Linked DNA regions of Homo sapiens: all the other regions are linked to region 1. The links come from fine-mapping of genetic effects on gene expression. A gene starts in region 1. Each other region holds a variant in brackets. All regions are shown on one strand. Distances are from middle to middle. Region 1 holds the start of RAP1GDS1 (Rap1 GTPase-GDP dissociation stimulator 1). Region 2 has its middle 140 kb from the start of STPG2-AS1. Region 3 overlaps RAP1GDS1 (Rap1 GTPase-GDP dissociation stimulator 1). Region 4 has its middle 50 kb from the start of RAP1GDS1. Region 5 overlaps LOC105377340 (a long non-coding RNA gene).

Evidence for each region. PIP is the estimated chance that this variant, and not a neighbour inherited with it, causes the effect. A credible set is the group of variants that fine-mapping cannot tell apart.
Region 2: its variant is the best candidate, but not a certain one, in a credible set for the expression of RAP1GDS1 in whole blood (INTERVAL, PIP 0.55).
Region 3: its variant is the best candidate, but not a certain one, in a credible set for the expression of RAP1GDS1 in monocytes (CEDAR, PIP 0.54).
Region 4: its variant is the best candidate, but not a certain one, in a credible set for the expression of RAP1GDS1 in whole blood (TOPMed, PIP 0.63).
Region 5: its variant is the best candidate, but not a certain one, in a credible set for the expression of RAP1GDS1 in T cells (TOPMed, PIP 0.68).

The regions. Positions count from the first base shown.
Region 1 is chr4:98,259,275-98,264,383 of GRCh38, reverse strand. RAP1GDS1 (Rap1 GTPase-GDP dissociation stimulator 1) reads right to left here and starts at 3,000. Exons shown (of 15, transcript NM_001100427.2): 1 at 2,815-3,000. The coding sequence starts at 2,818. RefSeq lists silencers at 2,710-2,779, 2,880-3,179 and enhancers at 3,146-3,708, 3,460-3,759.
Region 2 is chr4:97,507,966-97,513,074 of GRCh38, reverse strand. It overlaps a transcript of STPG2 not described here. Among named protein-coding and RNA genes, the nearest start is that of STPG2-AS1, 140 kb to the right of the region's middle. The variant C/T (reference allele first, on the strand shown) is at 3,102.
Region 3 is chr4:98,279,118-98,284,226 of GRCh38, reverse strand. The region is part of intron 1 of RAP1GDS1 (Rap1 GTPase-GDP dissociation stimulator 1); the gene reads right to left. Among named protein-coding and RNA genes, the nearest start is that of RAP1GDS1, 20 kb to the right of the region's middle. The variant C/T (reference allele first, on the strand shown) is at 2,304.
Region 4 is chr4:98,209,190-98,214,298 of GRCh38, reverse strand. No RefSeq gene overlaps it. Among named protein-coding and RNA genes, the nearest start is that of RAP1GDS1, 50 kb to the left of the region's middle. The variant G/T (reference allele first, on the strand shown) is at 2,676.
Region 5 is chr4:98,182,817-98,187,925 of GRCh38, reverse strand. LOC105377340 (a long non-coding RNA gene) reads left to right here. Exons shown (of 4, transcript XR_001741771.2): 2 at 1,409-1,503; 3 at 2,690-2,795. Among named protein-coding and RNA genes, the nearest start is that of STPG2, 42 kb to the right of the region's middle. The variant T/A (reference allele first, on the strand shown) is at 2,675.

The sequences.
Region 1 (5,109 bases):
CCTCTTGTTGCCCAGGCTGGAGTGCAATGGCATGATCTCGGCTCACTGCAAACTCCGCCTCCCGGGTTCAAGTGATTCTCCTGCCTCAGCCTCCCAAACAGCTGGGATTACAGGCGCCCGCCACCACACCCGGCTAATTGTTTTTTTGTATTTTTAGTAGAGACAGGGTTTTACCATGTTAGTCAGGCTGGTCTCCAACTCCTGACCTCAGGTGATCCGCCCGCCTCGGCCTCCCAAAGTGCGCGCCCGGCTGAGACTATCTTTAAAAATCAACCTTATTTATTTCTTGAGACAAATTAAAAAGCACTTCTCCCTCCCCTCATCATTAACCAGTATACCTTCTACCTTCTTATGTGTACATGAATTGTTATACTAACTTCCTTGGCCCAGATATAAAACTGTTCCCCAAGGTTTCAATTTTAAATTATCATATGTACCTACTGATCATACATGAAACTGCCTTACCATTGAAGAGAGTTTAGAAGGAAACAGATTGCCTGAGGTTGACTCAAAACCAACCTACAGTGTACTGGGAGGCATGGTACAATTATACCTTTCTGTTTCTGCTTATCCCCCAACTAGATAATATGTACCAACCCAAATGTTTGTTCAGATGAAGACTATATCTTCAGGTTCAAAAGTTGAAAATAATAGGTGGCTTTAAGTTCAACAATTTGCCAAAGATTTACTGAATTTCTATTTGAAAAGCACTGTGGGGAACACAAAAAATAATAAGACACTTTTCATCTTCTGGGACTCATGATTAAATGCACAGCACACACATAAACAACTTTATTATATGGTAGATTACGTAAGTGCTAAAAAGCTTCTAACAAGGTACAAACAGTGCTTATGAAGAGACAGATTAACCAAAGAGTATCAGAGATGGCTTCAAAATGAGAGATAGGTTTCTATTTGGCCCTTTTTAAAAATCAAGCAATAGCACTCAAGATTTTGAAGATTATTTTTAAGTAGATAATTTCTTTTAGGTATTTTTATTCACCAGTGTTGTAACGGAATTGGATTTTTTCCACTGAAAAAGTACGGATTTAACATGTAAGCTAAAATGTTAAATGGATTGTTTAAGGCTCACCTGGAAACATGGGAAAATATATTTTGCAAGCCAAACTTGAACTTACAGTCCAATATCAGATAGGGTTATTGGACATACTGTATATTTCCTTTGAACATACACACACTTATCTGTGTATGTATGTTCAAAGGAATTTTATTTCAAAGTGTATTTTATCTGTGTATGTTCAAAGGGAACACACATAAACGTGTGTATGTTCGACGGAAATATACAGCTTGTCCAATAATCTGATATAATACCTATTTAAAAATCTACTTTAAGAGAAAGGCAGACACGCATAAATGGGCCACCCAATTTTTACAGAAATTTGTTCAGCATATCGAGTACTCACGTTAAAAAGAAAAAACAACTGAAAATAAAATTCAGAGCCCTAGACCTTTTTTGATTCATACCACCTCCTCCGTCAACCCTGGCCTCTTCCAGATATATGGCCAAAGGTCGGGATCAAAGCCTGAAGCATTTGCTGTTCCAGAAAACTCTATGGACACCATTCCCAGGTTTAGATACTTCTTGAAGATTCTGAGTTGCACCACCTAACTCTGAACGTGTTGAGCACTGTATTAACAGATGAAAGGACCACATTCATCTCAAGCTTTAAATAACTCGCACAGAAGGGGTGGGAAAAGTCCCAGCTGACAGATGCCAAGGGAGCAAATTTTAAAAAGAGGAAATTATGACAGACAGGAGTGGAAGCAAACTGGGGAACTTAGTACAAGTCGCTACTATTAAAAGAAACTTTGAGCTCTTAATTACATGACAGCATTCATCAGACGTTTCTGTGATTACTGAATGTAACAGTTAAGCAATAGATGATGTAAAAAAATTAGGTCAAATGTATATATCGTTTTATAAAACATATTTGCTCTTAAATCTCTCATCCAAACCAATCTCTTCAGATTAACTATAAATACAAAGGAACTAAAATCAGATTATGCAGATTAGACAGGAGGAAGCTGGGAAAGAATAACTACCATGTAAGTTCGGTAACAACGTTACAGGGCGCAGTTTCCTGCTACAGAAGACGGACGAAGGAATCCAGAAAATAGGCTGGGCACGGGAATATTGCACACTGTAGTCACCCAGCACTAATTCAACAGCTAGCGGCTCTATCCTGCCTCACGTTCCTCGTGGCCTCTGACAAGTCATCCTTTCAACCTATGAGGCTGTCCGCTCTCCCCCTTGGAAAATAATTTCCGTGCAGGTTGTAAGATCTCCCTCACAAACTACTTGCTTCCACTTCCCCGCCCGGGATGAGGAGTCTCCACGACGGGGAAAGGTCGCACTGACAGAGAAGGAAGTTACACGAAGTGGTAGTGGTCGGACCCGAGCCTCGAGCTCAGTACACGCGGGGGAAAAGGAAGCGGGCGGCCTCTGGAGAAACGGGGATGGAGCTGCAGATGCGAGCCCGCGAGGCAGGCTCCGTGGTGCCCGGGCACCGGCAGGAAGAATGGAGGAGGGGAGGCGAGGCTGCGAGGTGCCGGGGAGCCGGGCGGCGGTCCGGCCCGCGGCCGACCCCACCCCAGCCCGCGCTCGGGACCCTCCCAGCCCCGGCACCCGGCGTGCGTTCCGCGTGCGCCGACTCTCCCCGGAGGAACAGCCACCGTCTCACACCCGGGGACTGGAGAAATCCGGCAACTTTGCGCGAGAAATGCTTCCCACCCTGCAGCACGCCGAGAAAGAAAAAAATGTCAGGCGATGACGGCGGAGGAAGGATGACTTACCCATGTTGCTCCCCGAGGGTGAGGAACCGGCGGGGCGAGGCGAAGGTCTGTGGTGCGGGCGGCGCGGCTCTGTGTCCTCCCTCTACCTCCGTCTCTCCCGCAGCCAGGGAGGGACCCGCGGGGGGCGGCCGCCGGGGAGGAGCAGCTGGTGCTGCTGCAGGCGGCGCGGCCGCGGCGGGGACGAGCGGCGGGGGGCGGGGCGGGGCGGGGCGGGGCGGGACTGGCGGGCGCAGCCTGCGGCGGGCGCGGCTCCGAGCGGGCGGGCGGCGGAGGCGCGGGAGCCGGCCTGAAGAGCTCCGGCCCCGACTCGCAGCCCACGAGCGCCCCGCCCTCCCCACCGAGCATGCTCAGTGCCTTTTCCACCCCTCCCTCTGTGGCGAGCGAGGCTAAGCGTGCGGGTGGGCGTGTGTTTGCAGACCGGCTGCAGCCGCGGCAGAGGATCTTCATGGCGGCCGCCTGAGAGGCGGAGGGCGGGCCCGGAGAAAACAGGGAATGGGGATATTGAGCCCGATCTGCTAGCAGAGGACTCACCGCTGCCTTGCTTTCCCACCCTGACCCACCAACCCCTCACCCGGAACCCGGGCTTGCCTTCTTTACGGGACGACCGGGCCGCACAGGCCGGAATTAACCGGAGAAGAGGCTGGGCCGCCGCAGAGCCGGGAGGGGTGGTGGGAAGCCAGAGCTGACGAAGTTGGAAAGGACGTGTAGGCGACTAGGCCTGCGCCTCTTGGGGACACCTGAGGACGCCCGCTGGGCAGCTGGCTGAGGAGGGGCCGCCGGGAGGGCGCTCGATAGCAGGCGTGTCATTGGGACACTTAAGGCTGCTCTAGCTGTGGCCAGCTTAGAAACAAAGGTCCCGGCAGCGAGGAGAGCGCCCGCCCCAGGATTTCCTCGAAGAGTGTGTCGTTCTCCCTCCCGGAGGAGCGCGGCCTTCCGTTCCCCGGAGGGCTCTGGAAAGGCCCTTTAACCGGGGTGCCGTCGGGCTCCATCCTGCTGTGAAAGCGGGAGGAACTACGTTCCCCAGGCTTGAAAATAAGCGTCCTGCTGGGTTGGCTGCGGCACTGCCAAAGCTAACCCGGCGGAGGTCCTTTGATCCCGGGGCCACCGCCCGCTCCCACCACCACCTCGGCCTCGGGGAGAACCTGAGCAGGGCTCTCCCACTGAGGGCGTCCTCCCGACTGGGCATGCACGTGAGGCCGGGGCTGGCTTCGGTCCTCTTCCCTGGGGTAGGAGGCTGGAGGAAACCGATTTCTCTGCACCCTAATCTTGCCCTGGCTCCTCCTGAGTGGGGTGAGGAATCTGGTCGCTCTCCAAGGCTACAGCGACCGGAGTCCTTCAGGGGACACTGTGCAGTCAGCAGTACAACCTGTTGGAGAAAGATGGCTGAATCGAGGTGTCTTTCCCCTGTCAACTTTCACTCGGTCAATCCAATGTTGAGAAAGGGCTTTTTTTGTTTGTTTGTTAATTAGTCGCCTATTCTCACAGTCATCAGTTTCTGCTTGGTGACTAGTATTTCGAGCACACAAATCAGAAGCGACCCTGTAATTTGTTAAGCAAAGAGCAGATTTTATGTGATTTTTCTACAGCAAGAAACGATAATTAAAAAGGTTTGGTAAAACAGGAAAATACAATTTAACTGCTGAAGTCAAATATATGGGACTTTTCTGATGCATGAGACTATCAGGCACCTCACTCTTAGGATGTTCTTCTTGTTTGCCTCTTAAAATAATCGCACTACATTAGTTCCCTAGGGCTGCCGTAACATACCACAAATTGGGTGACTTAAAACAACAAATTATTATCTCACAATTCTGGAGGCCAGAAGTTTGAAATCAAGGTGTAGGCAGGGCTGTACTCCCTCTGAGGGCACTGGGGAGGGATCTCGTCCATGCCTCTCCTAGCTTCTGGTAGTTTCTTGGCATATGGTAGCGTAACTCCAATCTGAACATGGCTGTTCTCCCAGTGTGCTTGTGTGTTCAAATTTCCCTTTTTAATAAGAACAGCAGTCATAACGGATTAGGGGCGAACCATCCTCCAGTATGACCTCATGGACGTTAATTATATCTGCAATGACCCTATTTCCAAATCAGGTCACATTCTAAGGGACTAAGGGTTAGGACTTCTACATATGAATAGGGCCAGCCTGGCCAACATGACGAAACCCCATCTCTAACTAAAAATACAAAAAATTAGCCAGGGCCAGGCACAGTGGCTCACGCCTGTAATCCTAACACTTTGGGAGGCTCAGGAGGGCAGATCACTTAAGTCAGGAGCTGGAGATCAGCCTGGCCAACA
Region 2 (5,109 bases), 750 kb after region 1:
TGGAAACCCTAATTGATAGCTAGTCAATAAGAAGCACAGGCCACAATCTGTTCTTGCAACCAGCATCTGAAGTAGGGGCAGTCTTGTGGGACTAAGCCCTTAACCTGTGGAATCTGACATGCTCTCCAGGTAGATAGTGTCAGAATTGAATTGAACTAGAAGACATCCAGCTGGTGTCTGCTGCAGAATCATCTGCAGAATTGTATGAGGTGTGTGTGTTGTGGGGAAGCTCCACACATCTGTAGTCACAGAATTATTCTGTATTGTGAGAGTATAGTATGAAAAAAAGATTTTAGATTTTCCTGTATCACAGGATTATTTTACTGTCTGGTGTACGCTAAGCCCTCAATAAGTGATAGCTATTACTAATATTTTTAAACCATGAAGATACTCTTTCGTCCCCCTTCCTTCTTCTTCCTCCCACCCCTATCTTTTCTTTATTTTTGCTTTCCCTTCTCTTCCATTCATTTTCCTCTTTTCCCTCCCTTTCCTCTTCTCTCCTCTGTTCTCCCTTCTTCTCAGTTTCTTTTCATTAACACTCACATACTTCAAACACAATCCTAGCTTTAGCTACTATGATATCCCAAATCTGTTGATCCAGACCACATCTTTCCCAAGTGCTTCCAAGCTACATATGCATTCCATGCTAAACATTTACAGTCAGGGATTTCATAGGCACCTTAAAGACAGCATGCTCCAAACTGAAGTGAACGCTTCTCACAATTACCCTCTCATTTGCTCATTGCCTACCTTTCCTATCTTAGTTATTGATGCCAATCATGTAGTCCTGGTAGTTCTTTAATTTTACTATGTGTCATCTTTTATATGACCATTCTTATATCCTCTAGTTTATCATCTCCTTATTTTTCACCTAGATTTTTATAATGGCCTGTTATATGGGCTCACTACCTGTGGTTTTACACACTTCTAATTCAATGTTCAAACTGTTGCCATTTTGAAACTTTCAAAGTGCAAGTCCAATTTTCTTATATGACTTGTTAACTTCTTACATTTTCCTTATACAATTTCAAGATTATAAGAAAAAAAAGTTGAAAAAACAGCAAAGCATGCAGGTCCTTTCCTAGTAAAGTCACTACCTATCCCTCCAGCCTCATCTCTCACCACCTTCCACATGTAACAGCTGCTCTTTAAGGAACTTGCAGCTCTCCAAATATGGCATGCTTTTCACAGGTATCTCTCTACACTAGGAATTTTTTTTCTTCCTTTTTTTCTTGCAAAATCGTACCAGCTCACAAACATTTTTTTTTATGTAGGAAATTAATTATGTTAATTACATAATTGCTCTGTTTTCTATATATTTTTATTTTGTTTGTTATTATCTATGTATGGTAAGCGATCCTCAAGTAATACATTTTGATAAATGCTTGACATGCTTGAAAATAATTTTTATTCTGCAGGTATTGTGCATAACGATGTTTTATATATACCAATTAAATAAAGTTGGTTAATCATGTTTAAATCTTCAAAAGTGTTACTGTTTTTTTGTTGTTGTTTATTTCTGTTTATTCTACCAGTTACTGAGAGAGGTATACTAAAATCTCCTACTATGACTGCAAATATATGGATTTCTTCTTACTCCTCTGTTAAAATTTTCTTTATATATTTTGGAACTTATTATAAGTTACAAAGAAACTCAGGATTGTTTTACTTTCTTATTGAAATTATTATTGTATCCTTATGAATTATCTTGCTTTTTATCTTTAGTTTTTTTCACCATAAATTCTTCTTAATCAGATATTAACATAACCATTCCTCTTGATTTTAATTAGTATTTTGTAGTACAGTTTTTTCTGTTCTTTTACTTTCACTTTTCTGTGTCTTCATAATTTAAGCATGTTTCTTGTAAATAGCATGTACTTTGGTCTTACTTTTTAAACCTATTCTGATAGTGTCTCTGTTTTGATTATAGTTTTTAGTACTTTTTGAATTTACATAATTACTAAAATAGTTGTGTTTAAATCTTACTATACATTTTCTATTTCTTCCATGTACTTTGGCATTTTCACTCCTCCCTTTTCTCTTTCTTTTGGATTAATTGAATATTTTTATTCCAGTTTTTCTCCTTTGTTAGCTATTATTATTATTAGAGATGGGAGTTTGCTCTGTTGCCCAAGCTATAGTGCAGTGGCATTATCACAGCGATGTACAGCCTCAAACTCCTGGGCTCAAGCTATCCTCCCGCCCCAGCCTCCTGAGTAACTGGGATTACCGGCGTGAGCCACTGTGCCCAGCAGCTTTAATTATATATTGCTATATATTATCGATTCTTCCCTGTATTCCTTTTTAGTGTTTATACTTAAGATTTCAACATACAGGGGCACAAACCCTATTGTGAACTGCACATGTGAGGGATCTAGGTTGTGTGCTCCTTGTGAGAATCTAACTAATACCTGATGATCAAGGTGGAACAGTTTCATCCTGAAACCATCTCTCCCACCCCCAGTCCATGGAAAAATTGTCTTCCATGAAACTGGTCCCTGGTGCCAAAAAGATAGGGGGCTGCTGCTCAAGACTATAGAGTTTTAGGTTCAGTAACCCCAGCATTATATCTGTGATGTATAGAAGGTAAAGTGTACATGTGAATGAATCAATGATTTGCAGTTATCTACACACTACCACACAGATTATTAGATAATTTAGAATCTTATGTTCCACACTTTTACTTCCTTTTCCTTCTACTGTCCTAATGCAAGCCCTTATCAGTTGTTGCTAGAAAAAATTAAAATGGTTTGTTGTAATGATTTGCTATAAACACTTTCTCCATATCAATATATAATTTAGGGCCAAAGATGCAATATTGAGCCTGACAAGAATGTATCAACTTACCCTGGTAATGTTAACCCTTCTTCATATCATATCAAAGGAGTAAAACTGTGGAACACAGATTCTAAATTCTCTAATAATCTGTGTGCTAGTGTGTAGATAATTTCAAATCATTGATTCATTTACATGTAGACTTCGCCTTCTACATATCACAGACATAATCCTGGGGATACCGGCTCTAGAAACTCTATAGCCTAGAGCAGTGGTCCCCAATCTTTTGGCACCAGGTGTCAGTTTCGTGGAAGACAATTTTTCCA[C/T]GGATTAGGGGTGGGAGGGTTGGTGGGGGTGCTTAGTAGAGTGTTCTGTTCTTACTAGGCACTTAATGGTATATGTAAAGTCATTGATAAGGTTTCAATGTTCTTAAATTTTTGAAAATTAATTCTAATAATCAATTGAATAACATTTTTACCCGGATTACCTTATTATGAGATGTTATCTGTAATTCTGAAGCACAAACCACTATTTTTCCCCTTCAAAGTGGCTGCCTCTTTTCATCTCTTTGAAGTGTGGCAAAAATAGAGAAAGCCTTGTCAGTATTTTTTGTTTTCCCTTATATTCCATAATATTAAAAGTGCATATTTGTCTTTATTTAAAATCAATTTCCGTGAGTAACTTTCTAGTGTTAACACCTAAAAAAAGGCTTTGTTTTTAGATTTTTGTATATTGTATACCACAAATCCTCATTAAGCTATTCTTTATCACACTTTTCTTTCTCATTTGTAACTTCTCTATGATTCTCTGAACAATGTGCTAATGAAACTTCACTGTTCTTTATGGTTTATGTTAAGGCAAGACATTATTACAATTTCTTGTAAGATTTTTGTGAACCTAATTGAAATTTAGAACGTCAGTTGTCATTTTTATAAATTGGGTGTCTAAAGCTCATAACAATGAATAAAGTTTTATCTTGAAACCTTGAATGGAAACTTGCTGTATTATATAAATTTCCATCTGAAGTTTCCACACTGACCTCTTAAGAATTCTGGGGAAAAAAAAAAAGTCAAATTCTTTTCCACCTTTGGGAAGGAGCTACAGACTGTCAGGAGTGCAAAGACAGAAACGGACCAGGTTCAAAATCGAAACCCTGGAGAGACATAAGCCCATAGAAATATGTAGGGGCCAGATTGGGCCTAACAGTGAAGGCGATGCTGTAGAGCAGGAATTTAGCTCTGAGTACATTGGTAACACATTAAAGAACTCAAATACACAACAATAGGAAAATAGGAAAATGGTTAATTAATTACAGTTAATTCACTCAGAAGAACATTATGCAGATTTTAAAAAGACAATGAAAACAGTGTAGCAAAGGGAAGAATTTTTATGATGCAAGAGATGGGTAGTTAGAGTGTTTGCTTCTCTACAGATAATCAGAATACTTTGGCCCTCTAGTATAAAGCACTATTAAAGTATATTTTCTGTGCTGATTATTTTTAATAGGTAAATTTTAGTTCATAATCGTGGATTTATATTTTGTATTTTCATGCTATAATTAATAAAAATTATTTTTTGTTCAAACAAATTCTACTTATTTTGATAACATCATTATGTCGTTATAATTCTAAACATACTTTTTATTAAGTTAATGAAATGGTGAATAATAAACTATTTTGAATAACACAGTAATACTGAATTAATAATTAATATTTGTTGATATGGTATGTTGCATTTTTATTCTCATTCAATCCAAAATGTTATCTAATTTGCATTCTGATTTTTTTACCTGTACATATATTGAAATGTATTGCTTAATTTCAAAACATTTGAGGAAAAGAGTCTAGTTATTTTTTATTGATTGATTTCTATATTCAAAGATAGTGAATAACCATATTTTGAATAATTTTTGTAGTATGAAATGTGCCATAGATGTGTCATGTGTCCATTATCTGTCATGAACCAATATATGGTAAACTCTGGTGAATGTTCCATGTACACCTGAAAATAGTGTGTATCTTTTTTTAAATAGACCAATTCAGTATTCTCAATATTTCAGTCATGCCTATTTCATAAATTATTTTGTTTGGATTTCCTATACCCTTATGGATGTATTTGCTGTATTGGTTACTATGGCATAATAAAGAATTTGCCTGGTCTTTGTTCCAGGTTCCTTCACAAACCTCTGGAATTTCCTGAATGATAGAAATAAGGTGACTCATAGTGGGCTCCTATATAGCTTCAACATGGGGACAGGTCATGACACAGACTAACCACATGGTTAGAAGATAGGGACTTTTGGCCACAGGACCTCTGGGGCTGGGGAGTAGCGGG
Region 3 (5,109 bases), 20 kb before region 1:
CCTACAGATAACATTATTTTTAAAAATTATATGGATATCACTTTATGTACTATTTCCAACTCCCTTGTGAAATAGATATTATTATCTGACTGTAATAGATGAGAAAGCTAATTCAGAAGCTGAATAACTTGCCCAGAATAAGTGCCAAAGTTGGGTAAATCCAGATATACGTGTGTCTGCAAGTACAGGCTCTTCCTTCTGTATAGGTAGCTGAACTTTGCTCAGTTACATGAAAGTTACACAGATATTGTGCTAATCAGAACTGTGCAAAGGACTGTCTGTACCTTCCTTTATATAGATGTAAGCTCTTCCAAAATGAATTTATAATCCAAACACGTTAGCTAGTTGTACTAGGTAACAACTGTCTATGTATCTGAATTAGTGACTAACAAAAAAAAAAAAAAAAAAATCACAATGAAATGTACCAGGAAGCAGTCTGCCACAGTATCTCAAGGGTAGTACAATGCTGAATACACACTTTAGCTTTCAATAAGTGTTTAACTGAATAAATAATAAATTCTAGAAAAAGTTCCAGATCATTTTAAGTAATGAACACTTATATATGTCCAAGAAGCTGTATTAGGGGCTGAAAAAGTAAATATAATCTGTCCTCTTAATTAAATTCTTAGGGGTCTGTGTTTTCTCTTGACAATCTAAATTATGTCCTTTTTTATCGCTCATTTTCTATTATTCTTTATCTACTAGAGTTTAAGCATTTCAAAACTAGAAATATGACTACTTGCACTACTTATACTTTGTCACTGTTTATAATGCCTAATATGGTAGTCTTGTGTTGCTCATTTGACTGATGGTGCTTTGTATGCAACACATAAAAGCCAGAAATATGACACACTGGACAGTTTTTATTAGAGCTTACCACCACATCACCATCCCCAGAAATGCATTTCTGCAACTAAAGGAAAATCATCAGCTCATACTATTTTTTCTTTGCTCTAACTGTATTTTGGAGACCAAATGTAGCTTATAATATTAAAAACAAATCAACATTTTTATTTCTCTGAAACACAACTACATCAATGTAAGTTTTGCATTTTGTAATGATCAGTTTCATCTTTCATGAAGTTACTTGAAGAATCTTCAATTTTCAGAAAAGTTAAAAAATTGTTTTTAAAATCTGATGAATTTCTTGTCAAAAAAACTTTGATGGTATGTGTTTCTCACCGTTTTAAAGGCAATTTTTTTTTAACGTTCAATTCCTAGAACAAAAATCATAACAAACTGTCTCTCAGACCACAGTGCAATCAAATTAGAACTCAGGATTAAGAAACTCACTCAAAACCACACAACTACATGGAAACTGAACAACCCGCTCCTGAATGACTACTAGGTAAATAACAAAGTGACGGCAGAAATAAAGATGTTCTTTGAAACCAATGAGAACAAATACACAACACACCAGAATCTCTGGGACACATTTAAAGCAGTGTGTAGAGGGAAATGTATAGCACTAAATGCCCACAAGGGAAAGCAGGAAAGATCTAAAATAGACATTCTAACATCACAATTAAAAGAACTAGAGAAGCAAGAGCAAACAAATTCAAAAGCTAGCAGAAGGCAAGAGATAACTAAGATCAGAGCAGAACCGAAGGAGATAGAGACATAAAAAACCCTTCAAAAAAAAAAAAAAAATCAATGAATCCAGGAGCTGGTTTTTTGAAAAGATCAACAAAATTGATAGACCGCTAGCAAGACTAATAAAGAAGAAAAGAGAGCAGAATCAAATAGACACATTAAAAAATGATAAAGAGGATATCACCACCGATCCCACAGAAATATAAACTACCATCAGAGAATACTATAAACACCTCTACGCAAATAAACTAGAAAATCTAGAAGAAATGGATAAATTCCTGGACACATACACCCTCCCAAGACTAAACAAGGAAGGAGCTGAATCTCTGAATAGACCAATAACAGGTTCTGAAATTGAGGCAATAATTAATAGCCTACCAACCAAAAAAAGTCCAGGGACAGACGGATTCACAGCCGAATTCTACCAGAGGTACAAAGAGGAGCTGGTACCATTCCTTCTGAAACTATTCCAATCAATAGAAAAAGAGGGAATCCTCCCTAACTCATTTTATGAGGCCAGCATCATCCTGATACCAAAGCCTGACAGAGACACAACAAAAAAAGAGAATTTTAGACTAATATCCCTGATGAACATCGATGCAAACATCTTCAATAAAATACTGGCAAACCGAATCCAGCAGCACATCAAAAAGCTTACCTACCACGATCAACTTGGCTTCATCCCTGGGATGCAAGGCTGGTTCAACACA[C/T]GCAAATCAATAAATGTAATTCATCACATAAACAGAACCAATGACAAAAACCACATGATTAATTCAATAGATGCAGAAAAGGCCATTGACAAAATTCAACAGCCCTTCATGCTAAAAACTCTCAATAAACTAGGTATTGATGGAAAGTATCTCAAAATAATAAGAGCTATTTATGACAAAGCCACGGCCAATATCATACTGAATGGGCAAAAACTGGAAGCATTCCCTTTCAAAAATGGCAGAAGACAGGGATGCCCTCTCTCACCACTCCTATTCAGCATAGTGTTGGAAGTTCTCGCCAGGGCAGTCAGGCAAGAGAAAGAAATAAAGGGTATTCAATTAGGAAAAGAGGAAGTCAAATTGTCCCTGTTTGCAGATGACATGATTGTATATTTAGAAAACCCCATCATCTCAGCCCAAAATCTCCTTAAGCTGGTAAGCAACTTCAGCAAAGTCTCAGGATACAAAATCAATGTGCAAAAATCACAAGCATTCCTATACACCAATAACAGACAAACAGCCAAATCATGAGTGAACTCCCATTCACAATTGCTTCAAAGAGAATAAAATACCTAGGAATCCAACTTACAAGGGATGTGAACGACCTCTTCAAGGAGAACTACAAACCGCTGCTCAACAAAATAAAAGAGGACACAAAAAAATGGAAGAACATTCTATGCTCATGGATAGGACAAATCAATATCATGAAAATGGCCATACTGCCCAAAGTAATTTATAGATTCAATGCCATCCCCCCATCAAGCTACCAATGACTTTCTTCACAGAATTGGAAAAAACTACTTTCAAGTTCATATAAAACCAAAAAAGAGCCCACATTGCCAAGACAATCCTATGCAAAAAGAACAAAGCTGGAGGCATCATGCTACCTGACTTCAAACTATACTACAAGGCTACAGTAACCAAAACAGCATGGTACTGGTACCAAAACAGAGATATAGACCAATGGAACAGAACAGAGGCCTCAGAAATAACACCACACATCTACAACCATCTGATCTTTGACAAACCTCAGAAAAACAAGAAATGGGGAAAGGATTCCCTATTTAATAAACGGTGCTGGGAAAACTGGCTAGCCATATGTAGAAAGCTGAAACTGGATCCCTTCCTTACACCTTATACAAAAATTAATTCAAGATGGATTAAAGACTTAAATGTTAGACCTAAAACCATAAAAACTCTAGAAGAAAACCGAGACAATACCATTCAGGACATAGGCATGGGCAAGGACTTCATGACTAAAACACCAAAAGCAATGGCAACAAAAGCCAAAATTGACAAATGGGATCTAATTAAACTAAAGAGCTTCAGCAAAGCAAAAGAAACTACCATCAGAGTGAACAGGCAACCTACAGAATGGGAGAAAATTTTTGCAATCTACCCATCTGACAAAGGGCTAATATCCAGAATCTACAAAGAACTTAAACAAATTTACAAGAAAAAAACAAACAACCCCATCAAAAAGTGGGCAAAGGATATGAACAGACACTTCTCAAAAGAAGACATTTATGCAGCCAACAGACACATGAAAAAATGCTCATCATCACTAGTCATCAGAGAAACGCAAATCAATGCCACAATGAGATACCATCTCACACCAGTTAGAATGGCGATCATTAAAAAGTCAGGAAATAACAGATGCTGGAGAGGATGTGGAGAAATAAGAATGCTTTTACACTGTTGGTGGGACTGTAAACTAGTTCAACCATTGTGGAAAACAGTGTGGCGATTCCTCAAGGATCTAGAACTAGAAATATCATTTGACCCAGCAATCCCATTACTGGGTATATACCCAAAGGACTATAAATTATGCTACTATAAAGACACATGCACATGTATGTTTATTGCGGCACTATTCACAATAGCAAAGACTGGGAACGAACCCAAATGTCCACCAATGATAGACTAGATTAAGAAAATGTGGCACATATACACCATGGATTACTATGCAGCCATAAAAGAGGATGAGTTCATGCCCTTTGCAGGGATATGGATGAAGCTGGAAACCATCATTCTGAGCAAACTATCACAAGGACAGAAAACCAAACACCGCAAGTTCTCACTCATAGGTGGGAACTGAACAATGAGAACACTTGGACACAGGGCAGGGAACATCACACACGGGGGCCTGTCATGGGGTGGGGACAGGGGAAGGGATAGCATTAGGAGAAATACCTAATGTAAATGATGAGTTGATGGGTACAGCAAACCAACATGGCACATATATACTTATGTAACAAACCTGTACGTTGTGCACATGTACCCCAGGACTTAAAGTACAGAACTTAAAGTTCAGAAAATATTTTATAATGTCAAAAATATAAATTATGCAATATATGTATACATGTAAGTATATATAAATAATTTGCATCTCAAAAAAAATTATTCTGGGTCACAAAAAAAAAGTTCAATTCCTGTTTTTTTCCATATGAAAAAAAAATTCCAACAATCATTTACTAGTTATCTGAAATTATATACTTTTTTATATCATTTAAAAATTTTTTAAATGTAATTATCTTAAAATTTTAAAATTATATATCATTTATGTAATTCTTTTGCATATAGTTATTTTAAATGTTATAGAACTCATATATTATAAAATGCTAAGACATAATAATGTTCCTTAGAAAAAATATAGTGGCCCTATTATTATTATTTTTGTTTGTTTGTTTGTTTGTTTTTAAGACAGAGTCTTGCTCTGTCGCCCAGGCTGGAGTGCAGTGGTGCGATCTCGGCTCACTGCAAGCTCTGCCTCCTGGGTACATGCCATTCTCCTGCCTCAGCCTCC
Region 4 (5,109 bases), 50 kb after region 1:
AAGTCACCAGAAGCTGGGAGAGGCAAGCAAGGGTTCTTCCCTAGAACCTCCAGAAAAGACATGGCCTGTTGACACCTTGGTTTTGGAATTCTAGCCTCCAAAACTGTAAGAAAATAAATTTATGTTGTTTTAAGCCACAAGGTTTGTGGTAATGTTACAGCAACCCTAGGAAACTAATATAGTAGAGTAGATCATTCTTAGCCCCTACTTTATCTTAGAAAGCAGAGAGGCTCAGGGATTTTGTAAGGAAGAAGAACTCTTCTTTCTATGAACTTTCCCATCACTGTTCACAGCAATATAGTCCTCTTGTTTTTCCTCCTCTTATTGTTATCTGATATATAGATGACTGTCCCTTGTGAATTATAGAGTCTTTAGAAAACATCCCTGAAGTCATCTTGAACTAGATAATATCTGAGGACTGAATAAGTGGGGTTTCCATAAGTTTTGCTCAACTGTTTTCAGAGATATATAGATGCTACAGTCCATGACTACTGTGTACAGTAGGGTAGGTTGTATACTGCACAACTCTAGGTTGTGCTATAATTGACATTTATATCAGTGTCAATATGCAGAAGAGTCAAACAGTGCACAGTGTGAACAGACATATAGCGGATGTTATTTATAAATATATATTCATCTAAAAGCATTATTGAGTTAATAGCAATTATTTGTTAAATATTTTTCTCCATCATTGGATTTTTAAATTACGACTATGATCTTGTAGGTGGCTATGAATTTCTCAAAAAGATGTCCTTACATAAAAAATATTTGTTGACTTTGCTACCCTAATAAGCCCAGAATCAGGGAGTCCTTTTTATCTGTCCCTATCATTTGTTACCCATATCAATCAGTCCAAAAGCTTTGCCCATTCCTTCTTTATAACATTCCTTAAATACTATCTGCCTTCTGCATAATAACCACTTTACTCCAGGTGTTCAGGACCTCTGGCTAGAATAACTATAATCAGATTCCTATATTAATTTTGTTTTCCATCTCTTGACTCCTGTTTATTCATGACAGAGTTGCAGATTAATCTTTGCAAAAATAATTTTTTTATTTTGTCAGTTCTCTGGTCAGAAACTCTCACTGACTTCCTTTTACTTGTAGAATTAAATCCAAGTTTCTCAGTCTTTCATTCAAACCTCTGTTTACTTATTCTGTCTGATCTCTTTTTTTTTTGCCAGTTCCTATCACTGTTCTTTTGAAGTTGGTGAATTGACTTCACAATAATGTTAAATAGCAGCAGTGAAATTTTGATTTCCCTCTATTGCTTCCCATTTCCATCTTTTGGCCTGTCATCCCTTCAAAGGAAGTTCTAAAAAGAACATACCTGAGTTAAGAAAGAAGACCTGGCTTAAAATTATTTATTCATTTATAGCTTTAGAGAACCCGTTTTATAAAGACATTTGAAAAGAAAACAATGTAATGAAAGTAATTGTTCTTTGTGAGAGCTGATAATATGATATAGTTATTAAAGAAGCAAAAAACTGTCAGTTACATATTTATTAGTAGTAATCAATTATTATTATTATTATTTTTAGAGACAAGGTCTGGCTCTGTTGCCCAGGCTGGAGTTCAGTGGCACAATCATAGCTCACTCAGCCTCACTGTAGCTGGGATTACACGTGTGTGTAACTATGCCCGGCCACATCAATTATTTCATTTGATCACAAAATATAGTGATGACAAAACATTAATTAAAATTAGATTTCAAGGCTGGGCGCGGTGGCTCACGCCTGTAATCCCAGCACTTTGGGAGGCCGAGGCGGGTGTATCACGAGGTCAGGAGATCAAGACCGTCCTGGCTAACACGGAGAAACCCCGTCTCTACTAAAAATACAAAAAATTAGCTGGGTGTGGTGGCAGGCGCCTAGTCCCAGCTACTCAGGAGGCTGAGGCAGAGAATGGCGTGAACCTGGGAGGTGGAGCTTGCGGTGAGCCGAGATCGCGCCACTGCACTCCAGCCTGGGCGACAGAGCCAGACTCCGTCTCAAAAAAAAAAAAAAAAATTAGATTTCAAGAAACTTCCCATCCAAATTGCATATTGTAGCTTAACTTCAAGAACTTATTTTTAGGCCAGGTGTGATGGCTCATACCTGTAATCCTAGCACTTTGGGAGGGTGAGGTGGGAGGATTGCTTCAATCCAGGAGTTCAAGACCAGGCTAACCAACATGGTAAAACCCCATCTAAAAAAAAAAATACAAAAATTGGCTGGGTGCAGTGGCTCACACCTGTAATCCCAGCACTTTGGGAGGCTGAGGCAGACAGATCACAAGGTCAGGAGTTCGAGACCAGCCTGGCCAACATAGTGAAACCCCGTCTCTACTAAAAATACAAAAAAATTAGCTGGGCGTGGTGGTGGACGCCTGTAAACCCAGCTACTTGGGAGGCTGAGGCAAGGAGAATTGCTTGAACCTGGGAGGCAGAGGTTGTAGTGAGCCGAGATCGCACCATTGCACTCCAGCCCGAGTGACAGTGAGAGACTCCGTCTCAAAAACAAAACAAAACAAAACAAAAAAACCCACAAAAATTAGCCCGGTGTGATGGCACATACCTGTAGCCCCAGCTACTAGGGAGGCTGAGGTAGGATGATCACCTGAGCCCGGAAAGTTGAGGTTGCAGTGAGCCATGATCATGCCACTGCACTTCAGCTTGGGCAACAGAGTGAGAGCCC[G/T]TCTAAAAAAAACCCTTATTTTAAAAACATTAAAAACATTTTGATTTCTCATCTAATCATAATTTTGAAAGCATTATTGTCACTTTCCAATGATCATTATACTAACCAGTAAAATTTCAGTCTTTTCCTTTTACATCTCAGATGAAAACAGGTCTTCACATTAAAAAATATTTGCAGTCCTTCTAGCTGAAGTTTTTTCTTTCTTTTTTTTTTTTTTATCAGGCAGCATCCTGAGCCAGAGTAGGCTCAGAGAGACTCCAGGCTAATTGAGTATTAATTAATATACTGTTGCTAATAATCCATACTTTCTATATTAATAGTGAGGTTTATTATATATGAAATGTTACTCATAGTAGATATCATTCATTACTTAATAAATGAAACTTCACACTTACAAAATTGACAAAATAGGGAGCTAACACATTATCTGAAGTTAAGATATTTGCTGGAGGAATACAACATGTATTAGTCACCTATCTGTTCAGGTCCATTAACATATTTTATTTTATTTATTATTTTTTAATATTTTTAATTTTTAACATTTAAAAAGTATAAAAGGTAGGAGAATTCTGTGAAGAACCTGGACATACTCAGGCAAAACAGGATTCTGCAATAGAAAGAAATAATGAAAGAGCAGATCATGGAGTAGAGAAGGCATTGCTAAGGTCTGCCCAAATGTTCAAAAACCGAAGGCAAAAATTGCTGATCACTAGGTGCCTTGCTCATCTGGAATGCTATTATCTGACGATAGCCAGCAAACCACAATAATGATCACCATAGCAATCTTTTCCTTCTTGAAAGCTCTGGACTCAGCCAAATGGAGAATTTGTTTTCCATGGTAATACCTCTCCAATTCTGTAATTAAAATAACAAATATCATTTTGCCAAATTAGCTTTTCAGACAGTTATATAGAATCCCATCTGTCCTTAAAGAGTTGGGTACCTGAATAATCATTTTAATACTGTTTTAATACAATTGCTGGAAAAATAATAATTGTGTTTTGGCTGCAACAATCCACATTTATTAATTGAAGCTGCAATAATACTAGTGACATTGGCAGAGTAGGAAAAAAAAAACCCGTATGTTAGTTAGGCTGGTTCTGAATATCTGTTTTCTTTCCTTGTTAGTGTTTATCCACTTGGAGCTGAATGAAGCATAAAGGCCAAATGAGAATCTGGCAGTTATTCAACCAGAAAATGTCAACAAATCAGGAAGTTTTCATCTAGAAAACTTTGCCCAGAAATAGATGTTAGAAATAATGGCAAAAAATAAAGGTTAGAAAAAGCATGAAATGAGTTTGGACATCAAAAATTGACATGTACACCTATATACATTGTTTTATTCCTTGTGAAAATGTCGGGAATGTCATCATTTATTATTGGCTACATGTTAACAACTCAGGGTAACCTATCACAGTAGCAGAGATGAAAAGTACTCACGCTAGACTTAGGAGGTGGAAGTAATGGTCAGGAAAGTAGTGTATAAAAATGGTGAAAGAAAACCAACCACGGGAATGAGGGGTGGGTAAGAGACAAATAAGAAACTCTCCCTTGCAAACTACATATGACCCCAAGTCTATGCGAAACAACATTCCCATATATTCTCTGACCAGGGTTGCACCAAAAATGGGCCCATTGAAGACCAGTAAGAAAAAAATTACCAACTTCAGCTACTATTTTGCAATAATGCATGTTATATGGCGTAAATCTGAACTAAGCGTGCATCTGCTCACACAGCCTTAAAGCATATAAAATCCATAATAATATTACCATTCCACAACAAAAACATGGCCTGGCACAGTGGCTAACACCTGTAATCCTAGCACTTTAGGGCTGAGGTGGGAGGATCTCTTGAGCTCAGGAGTTCAAGACCAGCCTGGGCAACAAAGTGAGACCCTGTCTCTACAAAAAAATTTAAAAAATTAGCCAGACATGGTGGCATGCACCTGTAATCCCAGCTACACAGGAGGCTGAGGCAGGAGGATCACTTGAGCCCAGGACGTCAAGGCTACAATTAGCTATGTTTGTACTACTGTACTCCAGCCTGGGTGAGAGAAAGAGACCCTGTCTCAAAAACAAAAACAAAAACAAACACAAAAACAAAAACAAAAACGTGACAACTACCACCAATTCTAAATTGGATGTAATGCAGTTATTGAGCATCTTAATGAAGTCTATTTCCATAAAATATTACAGTAGCATTTCCTGCATGACAGTGTTGCCTGTATTGGGCAGTTTTATGAAAGTTTTATCTTACTCCCTTTTATGGAAGGCCAGGTTTGGGTGCTAGTTAAGCAGACAGATGGACTACGGGTTAGATTATGCAATGGTTACCTGAAGTAGGAGGAACAGGAGCCAGAGTGAAAGCAAGTGGAGTCTCAGAGAACTGAAAATAAAAACCAAGAAAACCAAATTTGTTATCCTTTTCAAGAGA
Region 5 (5,109 bases), 76 kb after region 1:
AAAGTTCTATTTATCTTTCAGAGATGTATTCTGCTATATCCTATGTAAAGCTTTTCTGATTGACTCCTGCACATAATCTTTCACTCTTCTGCATACCGCTGTACCTCATAAGCATTTTTTAAAAATCATTTTTTGTAATATATTTGCTCCTGTATTCTGCCTTTTCTTCTAGCCAGCAGGAAGTATCAGACAGTCATTAACTTTTACAGAACTCAATTTATTTGTGTTGGTAAATTGCAGTAACCTTAGAGAGATACTTGCTATAAAATTGTCTGAATTGTATTTTGCTGAGAAATATATTTCTTTTAGATTCAGCTAAGATAACTTATAAATCATTTGTCTAATGATTTCAATTAGTATTTTTTAAACTAAAACCTCATTATTTTTTATTCTTCTCTCATTTTATTAATTTTATACTTAAGAATGAAGTCATGCAAGCAGTTAATACAACTAGTTATTCCAGTACAATAACTGAGAAAGAGTGTCTATTTATATTGCTCTTTTGTTATGGATTACTTGACTTTTTTCATAGCATTGTTAGTTTTCTAGACTGATTTAGCCAAATTGTAATTAGTAAATGAATTAACTTGAAAATTTTGCATTTGTATATATTTTTATAAAATGTATGAATCCATACTATTTGAGAATTTATAAAAATTGTTTAAAGCAGAACTATTAACCGGGGTGCCATCATTAATAAAAGCTGCAATGACAAGGTTTGAATTTCTGGATGTGTTTCGGCTGATTCTACAGTTCTTTCTGCTAGACTTGCAAATTAAAATAGCCAAAGTAATTTCTTAGACGAATTGATTTATAAGCAGGCTAATGATTTTTCATGATGTTAAAATAGAGGACTTTCAGATTCATGTTGTAGGAGATTGGTTAAGAATGAAAAATTTGTGTCAAACTGCCTAGCTCTAAATTTAAGCTTTGCCACATTTTGCCTTATATAATCTTGAACAATTTGCTTAACCTCCCTAAGCCATAGTTTTTTTTTTCCATTTGCATAATACAGATAATAATTTATCTATTTCATAGATTATTTTGAGGTTTACATGACAATATAAGTAAGATATTTAGCAGTTTCTGTTACATAGTAAATACTCAAAGATGAGCTAATATAACAGATATAGCTAAGTAAAGTCAATAAAACATATAGTTAATTTAAAGACTATTTTACAACTACCATGTATCTAAGTACTATTTATTTATGTATTTATGTATTTATTTATTTATTTAGTGAGACAGGGTCTTGCTCTGTCGTCCAGGCTGGAGTGCAGTGGTGCGATTACAGGTCACTGCCATCTTGACCTCCTGGGCTCAAGTGATTCTCCCACCTCAGCCTCCTGAGTAGCTAGGACTACAGGTATGTGCCACTACACCTGGCTAATTTTTTTTTTATTTTTAGTGGAGATGAAGTCCCAGTATGTTGCCTCGGCTGGTCGCAAACTCCTGAGCTCAAGTGATCCTGCCACCTCGGCTTCTTAAAGTGCGGGTAGTACTGTAAGCCACTACACTCGATCTTAAGTACTATTAATAAAAGCTACCATATAGTGAGCATTTGTGCTAAATATTTTATATACATTATCTCATTTAAACTTTACAATAACTTTGGGAGTAGTTATAATGTCCTTATTTTATTGACAAGTTAACTGAGGCTCTGAGAGTATATGTCCAAAGTTATATATTTGGTAAGAATATTTTGACATGATCATTTGGAGCAGACATTTTAAGGTCAGGAATATTTTGGTGCAGTCTATAGGAAAAAATCTCTAAACTTTCTACTTTCCCCTGCCAAATCGAAATAGCTTTATTATGCTTATTTCCAAATTTTTTTTAAAAAAGAACATACATTTTGAAAACAACTCAGGCAATATAATAAGATACAAGAATCACTTATAATTTCACCACTCAATGGTAGTCACAGTTAATATATTTGGTAAACATAAATTGTAGACACTACTTGCCTATCAAATATCCATTCTCTTCTTATTTCTTAATAACAGATCCAAATTTTTGTTTGGATCTAGCTAAAATACTTACCTCCCCAGACAAGCAATGGCCCTGAGAACCAGTTCTGGCCAAGGAGATGCAAGCAGGAATCACTGAGTACGCGCTATTGGGAAGGCGGCTGACTTGCCTAGCAACCACCTCTTGTCTACATAGTGTGCAAATATGCTAGGAGTGCAGTCATTTTTTTTTGGCCCAAAAGACAAAAATTGCATGCAGTCTGGCATAATGAAGCCTGAGTCCCTCATGGCATCATGAAGCCCTTTGATCAGTCCTGAACTGCCTACAGTGGAAATTCTTGTTATAAGGAAAAAAACCTTTCTGATTAAGCATTTAAATTTTAATCTGGTTTCTGTTACATGCAATTAAAAGCAATCTTAACTGATACACTATCATTCTGGAGTGCTTTTTCCTATTTAATTACATTAAACATTAAAAGATAACCTTCAAATAATTCCTATTATAAAAGGTAACCTTATTATATAATTATAATTTTGCAATAAACAATATTCATTTGTATGTCATTCAGGCAGACTCTTGGCTGCCAACCCAACAACCATGTCTCCTACATTTATGTTAACAGAATTCTAATTTTGTTTAGATAGCATTTTGTTCAGCCCCTGGGATAAATCTTGATTGGTGTATATAAAAATTATAGCTATCC[T/A]TTCTCTCTTGCCAGTAATTTGTCTAGAAATGACAGTGTAATGCCACTCTGGTCAATGAGACCTAAGAGGAAGTCTACTGGAAGACATCTGGGAAAGATTTACCATCCTGAAAAAAGACATGTGAGAGCATTTTTTTTCCCTCCTTCAATTTCTTGAGGTTGTATTGTATGAAGACGTACTGTTTGGAGCTACAGCAGCCATCTTGTGAAAATAAAGAGAAATATTATTGGCACTGTAGTGATGACCTAATGTAGACAATCTGTGACACTAACCAGGTTTTCTTGTAACATAAACAATAAGTGGGGCAGGCGCAGTGGCTCATGCCTGTAATCCCAGAACTTTGGGAGGCCAAGGTGGGCAGATCACCTGAGGTTGGGAGTTCAAGACCAGCCTGACCAACATGAAGAAACCCCGTTTCTACTAAAAATACAAAATTAGCCCAGCATGGTGGCCCATGCCTGTAATCTCAGCTACTCGGGAGGCTGAGGCAGGAGAACCGCTTGAACCCGGGAGTCAGAGGTTGTGGTGAGCCAAGATCGAGCCATTGCACTCCAGTCTGGGCAACAAGAGTGAAGCTCTGTCTCAAACAAAAACAAAAACAAAAAACAATAAGTGTATTTATATGCTTTAAGCTTCTGTTAATTTTTTTTATTTGTAGACAAAAGCATTCCTATTGACATGTTTATTCAGAAAACATTTATTATTCATTTTCCATGTGTCAGAAACATTATCAGTAAACATAATCAATTATTTTGCCTTCATACAGCTTACTTTTGAAGGGAAAGTAATATTACATAAATAAATTATATCATAAGTAAGTTATAGTATATATTAGAAAGCAATAGGGGCTACAGAGAACAGGAAGACAGGAAAGACATGGAGTGTGCAAGTGTTGGTTGGTCAGGGAAGGTCCACTGAGAAAATAATGTTTGAGGAAAAACTCAGAGTTGGTAAGGGAGTTATCTTTGTGGATTTCTAGACAAAGAGAGTTTCCGGCAGAGAGAACGGCAACTGCAAAGGAGCTGTGATGGGATGGGAGAGTGCCTGGCACCTTCAAAGAGTGCCAAACAGACCCCTATGGCTACAGCGGAATGGGAGAATATGAACAGAAACTGGCCAAACAGACCTGGGAGGACAAGATTGCCTGGGACCTAGTTAAGACCTTGGCTTTTATTCTGAATAAGCTGAATGGTCATTCAAGAATTTTGCATAGAGAAATAACATGATTCAACTAACATGATTCAACTAGAATCATATAAACTACTGTTTTGAGAATAAATACAGAGGAGTGTATTGGGGTCATGGCAGTAGTTATGCTGAAACAAAGAGACCTGCCAAATTACAGAGGCTTGAATAAGGTTTACTTCTTGGGATGTTGGTAGTGTGGTTCTGTTCCATGTGGTCAGTCAGGGACCAGATTACATGTTTTGTTGTTCCCTATCCTTTCAATCATGTTTTTATCTTGCTTGTGTTCACAGGATCATGACATCTTGCAGAAAAGAGGAAGAGAGAATTTCTAGGACAAATGGCTTGTTTTTTACATTAGAGATGAACCAAAAGTTGCACACTTCACCTCTGCTCACATCCCATCCTTCTTAATCATATAGCCACAACTTGCTTCAAGTGAGACTGAAAATACAGTCCCTAATGGGGGAAGAGGTGATGACCATGTGTACAGCCTAAGTTTTTTTTAAGAAAAAAAAAAAAAAGGGCCGGGTGTGGTAGCTCACACCTGTAATCCCAGCACTTTGGGAGGCCGAGGCGGGCAGATCACAAGGACAGGAGATCGAGATCATCTTGGCTAACATGGTGAAACCCTGCCTCTACTAAAAATACACAAAATTAGCTGGGCATGGTGGCACGTGCCTGTAGTCCCAGCTACTCAGGAGGCTGAGGTAGGAGAATAGCTTAAACTTGGGAGGAGGAGGTTGCAGTGAGGCAAGATCGCACCACCGCACTCCAGCCTGGGTGACAGAATGAGATTCTGCCTCAAAAAAAAAAAAAGAAAAAAATTAAAAAAGAAAAAAAGAGAAACAAATTGGTTGGAGGCCTATAAGTTTATGCTACAAGGACTAAAGATAGAACCAGAGGGAGCCTTGGACACCATTGCAATAACATCCTAGTACATGACAGTGTCTTGGACCATAGTGGTAGGAAAGGAGATGAGGAGAAGTGGTCAGATTCTGGATACATTTTGAAGGTATATCCACTAGGATTTGCTGATAAATTGCATGTGATATATGAAAAATATAGAGGAATTAGGAACCTGTCTACTGTTTTTAGTCTGAGCAACAAAAATAATGGACTGGCTAAAACTGAGATGGAGCAGAGTATGGGTGAAGCTGGTGGCTTAAGGAGGAAAATTATGGGTTTTAGATATAATAAATATATGGCTAATTCAATATATAAATGAAGATGAGAAGTAGAAAGTTGA